Linked DNA regions of Homo sapiens. The protein of the gene in region 2 purifies or fractionates together with the protein of the main gene of each other region. This does not show direct contact. Each region holds a gene or a part of one and is shown on either strand. Other genes may lie near its edges.

Evidence for each region.
Region 1: the proteins of METTL14 (region 2) and SPTBN1 purify together in Homo sapiens (affinity purification with mass spectrometry; 2 studies listed by BioGRID and IntAct, with this or other methods). This does not show direct contact.

Annotation. Positions count from the first base shown.
Region 1 is NC_000002.12:54,627,267-54,630,921, forward strand, and holds part of SPTBN1 (spectrin beta chain, non-erythrocytic 1), read left to right. Parts: intron 1-830; coding exon 831-984; intron 985-1,666; coding exon 1,667-2,537; intron 2,538-2,625; coding exon 2,626-2,763; intron 2,764-3,588; coding exon 3,589-3,655. UniProt on the Homo sapiens protein: Fodrin, which seems to be involved in secretion, interacts with calmodulin in a calcium-dependent manner and is thus candidate for the calcium-dependent movement of the cytoskeleton at the membrane.
Region 2 is NC_000004.12:118,702,261-118,705,915, reverse strand, and holds part of METTL14 (N(6)-adenosine-methyltransferase non-catalytic subunit METTL14), read right to left. Parts: intron 3,031-3,655; coding exon of another isoform or gene 2,981-3,030; intron 1,982-2,980; coding exon 1,865-1,981; intron 306-1,864; coding exon 95-305; intron 1-94. UniProt on the Homo sapiens protein: The METTL3-METTL14 heterodimer forms a N6-methyltransferase complex that methylates adenosine residues at the N(6) position of some mRNAs and regulates the circadian clock, differentiation of embryonic stem cells and cortical neurogenesis.

The DNA of each region.
Region 1 (3,655 bases), on a different chromosome or scaffold from region 2:
AGCAGAGAGGGACTTTTCATTTTATAAATCATGATGCACATTGTAACTCAGTTGGTCCAGAGACTTCCTCAGAAGTAAGAGTGAAGTAGAAATCTCATCTGGCGAGGATGTAGAATGAGGCCCCCAAATTTCGCTGGTTGATGGAAGAAACAAGAAAATATCAGTGGGTTCAAACTTAAACTCTAGAAGTTGCTTGGGGTCTACTAAGCAAGACAGCCACCTGACCCTGCTCTCCTTATTGGTTTAAAGATGTGGCTTGTAAGCTTTTCAAGTAGATTGTTTTCCCATTGATTGTGTAAGTACAGTAGAGGCATACCAATAAGCTCCTAACAGAGGAAAAACATTCACTTACAGGCTCAGCAACTTCTAAAAGATTTCTTTCAACTTTGAAGTGACCAAGTCTATCACCTTTATTTATTTATTTTTGAGTAGTTGTTGCAGCGGTTTCTTCTTGAAGCTCCAGTTTATATTTTGGAATCTTTCATACAGCACCCCCGCCCACGCTCCCCACTGCCCCCTCCCCCCCACCCTGGCCCCGCTGGCCCTCACCATCTTTTTCTTCTATTCTGCACTTTTTAGTGTAGATTTGACTTACTTATTCCAAGTTTGGTGATCCTTAGTTTGTGATAGCTCTCCTGACTCAGGCCTTCAGGTATGATTTGTTTTGTTCTGGTTTGTTGGCCATCATCTTCCCCTGAAGGTGTGGGGTCCATGGCAGACTAGAGGGAAGGCATAGCTTCATTGCTGGCTCTCTGCTTGTCGAAAGATGATGTGATGCTGAAGTCAAGGCTATAGTCACAGATGTCCTTTTGGTTGCTTCTTGTGCACAGGTGCTAGTATTGTCTCAAGACTATGGCAAACACTTACTTGGTGTGGAAGACCTGTTACAGAAGCACACCCTGGTTGAAGCAGACATTGGCATCCAGGCAGAGCGGGTGAGAGGTGTCAATGCCTCCGCCCAGAAGTTCGCAACAGACGGGGAAGGTAAGGATGGCCCATTCCAAGCATTACCTCCGGGTCACCAGAGATTCATATTTATAGAAACACAGTGGGGCTTTTGAAGTTACTGTGCCACTATACATTCCTGGTGGGTTTGTCATGGGAGCATGAAATACGGTGGAGTGGCCTTCTGAACACTAACTCCATCTTGTTTTTCTGGAATTGATACATCCTTTCCTTAAATACGCAAATGCTGCCTTTGCTTTGAGTGGCTTGGTGTTTGGCAGTGAGACTTTGTCATACCTCAGTCTCTCTGGCCATGCACCGACACCCTGGTGTGGCTGTTCCAGCAGCTCCTGGCTTTCACAGCTGGTTGCATATACCTCTCTTTGGAGGATGTTTAGAATGATTTGGTTATGCTTCGTGTATTTCTAGAAACAATTATATGCAGCTGCCTTTTTCATATGATTCAAGTGCTTTCTTGCAGGAGGATGATCACTTTGTCTGCGGTTTGGCCAAAAAAAAATAATGTTTATCATTGCCCTCACTCCTGTTCTAGTCAAGTTGTTAGAAGGTGCTCCATTGCCTTATCGCATGGCCCTGCATTTACATTTAGCAGTGAGCTGGTAATCATAAGAATATGGGGTGTAGCTTACTGCCTGCCAGTGAGCCTGCACCCATGCTGAGCTCCCTCACACAGCCACGTTCCTTCCTTGATGTTAAACAGGTTACAAGCCCTGTGACCCCCAGGTGATCCGAGACCGCGTGGCCCACATGGAGTTCTGTTATCAAGAGCTTTGCCAGCTGGCGGCTGAGCGCAGGGCCCGTCTGGAAGAGTCCCGCCGCCTCTGGAAGTTCTTCTGGGAGATGGCAGAAGAGGAAGGCTGGATACGGGAGAAGGAGAAGATCCTGTCCTCGGACGATTACGGGAAAGACCTGACCAGCGTCATGCGCCTGCTCAGCAAGCACCGGGCGTTCGAGGACGAGATGAGCGGCCGCAGTGGCCACTTTGAGCAGGCCATCAAGGAAGGCGAAGACATGATCGCGGAGGAGCACTTCGGGTCGGAGAAGATCCGTGAGAGGATCATTTACATCCGGGAGCAGTGGGCCAACCTAGAGCAGCTCTCGGCCATTCGGAAGAAGCGCCTGGAGGAGGCCTCCCTGCTGCACCAGTTCCAGGCAGATGCTGATGACATTGATGCCTGGATGCTGGACATCCTCAAGATTGTCTCCAGCAGCGACGTGGGCCACGATGAGTATTCCACACAGTCTCTGGTCAAGAAACACAAGGACGTGGCGGAAGAGATCGCCAATTACAGGCCCACCCTTGACACGCTGCACGAACAAGCCAGCGCCCTCCCCCAGGAGCATGCCGAGTCTCCAGACGTGAGGGGCAGGCTGTCGGGCATCGAGGAGCGGTATAAGGAGGTGGCAGAGCTGACGCGGCTGCGGAAGCAGGCACTCCAGGACACTCTGGCCCTGTACAAGATGTTCAGCGAGGCTGATGCCTGTGAGCTCTGGATCGACGAGAAGGAGCAGTGGCTCAACAACATGCAGATCCCAGAGAAGCTGGAGGATCTGGAGGTCATCCAGCACAGGTGAGCGGGGCGCTGGTCAGCCACTGGCCTGTTCCTTGTGACCACCAGTGGCCCAGGAGGTGACCACCCTGTCAAATTGCCATTTCAGATTTGAGAGCCTAGAACCAGAAATGAACAACCAGGCTTCCCGGGTTGCAGTGGTGAACCAGATTGCACGCCAGCTGATGCACAGCGGCCACCCAAGTGAGAAGGAAATCAAAGCCCAGCAGGACAAACTCAACACAAGGTGAGCACGTGGCCAGCAGTGTGCCAGCCTCCCACGTGTGGGACTGGGGAGGGTGAGGTCACTCATCGAGCTTTGCTGTTGGGAATTTCCCACATGGGGTCATCGACATTGCAACACTGATGTCATGGCATTGGCACCTGCCTTTTGACATGTCCTTGTTTTGTAAGAAGTGTCTCTCAGGGCAACATCATTGGTTGCAGGAGGATTATCTGAGTCAGCCCAGCATCTGCCCCTCGCCACACCAAAGTTAGGGCCTTGGTTTGACCTGTGTCCAGTGTAGAAGGTATTAAGATGACACCTGTGCTATCCATTTTATAGTAACTTCAGGAACAGGACTCTAGCATGTTTAACACTTAATTTGCCAATGAAAGTCCTGATTGTCAGGGCAGACCTTTGTTCCAGTCTTATCTTTCTGTTGAGTAAACATGTTTGAGTAGGTTATGGCACCTGGCCCCAGTTTTGAAGGTTACCATCAGTCTTAGATTTGGAAAACGTTCATTAGGTAGAGTTCAGAGATGTGTAAAATGTGTCACAGACATGAATTAATTGACTCTGGGAATGGATATCTTGTAATTGCTCACATTGGAGCTCTGTAACACATTCCTCTTCGTGACAGGCTTTTTCCAGATTACATTGCATCCCTGAGCTATTTCCATTATATTTGGTGTTCACAGTTTGAGTGAGATGATTTTCCAAAAAAGCATGTAGTCAAAGCACAGATGGAGAAAACAGATAAGCAGCATTAACCCATCACTGTTCCTTTTGCAATCCAGCCATGGTCAGTCTTCCCTTTTTCACACTCGCTGTCTGCCCCTGCACTCACAGGTGGAGCCAGTTCAGAGAACTGGTTGACAGGAAGAAGGATGCCCTCCTGTCTGCCCTGAGCATCCAG
Region 2 (3,655 bases):
TGCATAAGAACTTTATTTTACACAGCACCATGTCCTATTTCTTGACATGCATAACCCAAAGAATCATAAAAGTTGTTGTTAACTGAGGTCCTACCTGGTCGAATTGTACTATCTCTTCCAAATAGATGAAGGCGTCTTCTACCAAGACAAAAATGCTCAATTATATGAAAAATTTCTACAGGTTTTTCTATATTGCCAATTTCAGGTTCTTCTGTGATAATTAAGTCAATGTCAACATTAGCATGAATGAAGTCCCCGTCTGTGCTACGCTTCACAGTTCCTTTGATCCCCATGAGGCAGTGTTCCTAAATAACAAGAGCAGACCAATTAATCTGTTTTCATCAACAGTCATTCCAAAACCTTTCACATTTCTGATGTCCTCAATTCTAAAACAATCCTCATTTCTCGGAATCTTTGGGATACAGTTATTTCTCTTCTTTTTGAGACTGGGTCTCGCTCTGTCACCCAGGCTGGAGTACAGTAGCACGATCTCAGCTCACTGCAGCCTTGACCTCCTGGGCTCAAGCAATCCCCCGCCTCAGCCTCCCAAGTAGCTGGGACCACAGGAACACACCACCACACCTGGCTGATTTTTAAATTTTTTGTAAAGACAGGGTCTCGCCATGTTGCTCAGGCTGGTCTCAAATTCCTGGGCTCAAGTGGTCTACCTACCTCGGCCTCCCAAAGTGCTGGGATTACAGAAGTGAGCCACCATTTCTGGTGAGATACAGTTCTATGGGCAACAAAACAACAGGAAAACCTGGATCTCTGGATGAGGAAAGACTGCCATGTAAATAAGAAAAACAAACTCTTCTACGCACTCACAACACTCAGTATTTTCAGAATACTTCACTTCTGATCCCAGATGTGTGGGTTTTTCCCATACCAAGCAATTCTCCACTTCTCCATCAACACTATAATTCAATTCAATTCTGACACTATCTACCTAGTTAGTGCAGACCCCACAGGTCAAGGGCTGAGAACCACATGAATGCCCCACCTTCAGATACCAATCACAAGTCCAGATTGTCACCTGTGCTTCTGACCAACCAGCTATAAATCAGAGGTTCCCATGACCTCTTCCTCAGGTTAGATCATTTGCTAGAACAGCTCGAGGAATTCAGGAAAGCTCTTTACTTACTATGACCTATTTATTATAAAAGGATACAACTCAAAAACAGCCAGATGGAAGAGACACATAATGAAAAGTATGCGGCATGGGGCATGGGGCATGGAGCTGCTGTGCCCTCTCCAAGCAGACCACCGTCCCAGAAACTCCACAGGTTCACCAACCCAGAAGCTCTCCAACCCATCTTGGGATTTTACGGAGGCTTCATTACCTAGGCATGATTCCAGTACAAAAAAGACTTAATAAGAAAGACCCTCCCACCAGAGGCTCCCTAAAAAGTAAGAACAAAAACTGTTAAAGCCTGATACTAGCAGGGCAGAGTCACAACAAACAGAAGTTCTCAGGGGTTCTTGTAAAGGAAAAAGAAGGAAAGAAGAGAGAAATACGTCTCTAAGCTGGCCAACTCGAGTCTTGCGATCTTGCTATCTCTTCTTTCTGAGCCTAGAAAAATTCTGCGGGTGAGTGTGATCAAAAGCCTTTATCTAACTTAGAAATATGGCATTTAGGACATGGAGGAATATATACTCCCCTTTCTAGCATGGTGGGGTTGATCTAAGATAATGAATAAAACATTTTAAAACTAATTTGGATGTATTCCTGTAATGCTCAATGCTGTCTTTACAAGTCTAAGAAAAGGACCTTTTCACTGAAGTTAATTAAACAGTATACAGTTATTTGGAAAAGCTTGAGAGAAAATCACAAAAATTAAAAAAAACAAATCAGTAAAGGCAATACCTTTGTTCTCTGAAAGACAGCCTTTGGATCTAAAGTCTTAGTCTTCCCAGGATTGTTTTTATTGGTTTTAATCCAACAAATATCTTCACATCTTCTGTAACCCCATTTTCGTAAACACTAGAAACAAAAGAATTTTAAACACAAATCCTTAACTTAAAGAAATAAACAATACTTAACAATAACAACCAGCATTAAAAAAAACTTTCTAGAGGTTTCAGACACTATATTCCAAGGTTTCAAGGTAATTTTGTTTCAGTGTAGAATATAAAAAGAAATGCCAGTCTTTAAATACATAGCCATAATACGGAATGCATATATATCTTTTGGATATCAATGTCATATATATAGTTAAATATCAAAACATAGAAAGGATTACATCATCTCCCAATTCTACATTCTATTGTCATCAATGGACATGGGGTTTTAAATTGTAAGCACTCAGACCTTCTGTAATCACAAAACAATCCAAAACACAATTTGATTCCTGCCAACTCAATATTCTATTCTCTGACAAAGCTACATACTATTGAAAATTTTCTAAACGCTAACTTCAAATGAGAGTCTTATAAAATCTTATTTCTATTTTTAATACAACTGTAAAAATGTTCAAACTTAAAATTGTTACGTGTATCTCTTTGTTGGGTAAAATGGTACTTTCATCTCTATATAATCTAGAAAACAGAGATGTGAACCTTAATGTCCTAGAAGCTGTTATACATTAACATAAAACAAATACCAGCTAAATGACTGCTCACAGTGACAACTGAAAGTCTACCATATGCCAGTGCTGGTTAGCTGCTGGAAATAAAAACATGAATAAGACACAGTCCCTATCCCCATCAACTTTAAGAGTAAAGGAGGGAAAAATAAACAAATAAGTACAGTATTGCTGGTATGATGATCAAGTACATATCAAGATATAGTAGAGGCAGGTTGGGGGCTAGGGGAGGGACAGCATTAGGAGAAATACCTAATGTAGATTACGGGTTGATGGGTGCAGCAAACCACCATGGCACATGTATACCTATGTAACAAACCTGCACGTTCTGCACATGTATCCCAGAACTTAAAGTATAATAATAATAATAATAATAATAATAATAATAATAATAAAACCTTCCAACAAGCTTCCTTTCCACCACAGGAAATCCTGTTGGGAGTTCCCCCTGAACCAAAAAAAAAAAAAGATAGAGTATAAAACATACACTTTTCAGGAATGCTTATTGGGTAATGTAAGATAACACCTCAAAATGAAACTCAGAATTTTATTTTATTTTATTTTTTGAGATGGAGTCTCACCTAGGCTGGAGTTCAGTGTGGTAATCTTGGCTCACTGCAACCTCCGCCTCTCAGGTTCAAGTGATTCTCATGCCTCAGCTTCCCAAGTGGCTGGGACCACAAGCACGTGCCACCATGCTGTGCTAATTTTTGTATTTTTAGTAGAGATGGGGTTTCACCATGTTGGCCAGGCTGGTCTTGAACTCCTGGCCTCAAGTGATCTGCCCGCCTCTGTCTCTCAAAGTGCTGGGATGACAGACATGAGCCACTGCGCCCAGCAGAATTTTATTTTAAAATCTCCAAAATCAAGATCAATATCTGTTCCTGTTACTAAATATTTATTTTGCACCAGGTGTCATTAACATCACTATGACCTAAATTCTACATGCCCTAATCCACTAATTTATCAAAATCTCATGAGTATTTCTCATGCTGAATTATTTTTTAAATCATTTTTCGCCGAACTCTCACCAGTATGATAAACTGCTACATTAAGTAAATAAGATAAAAACC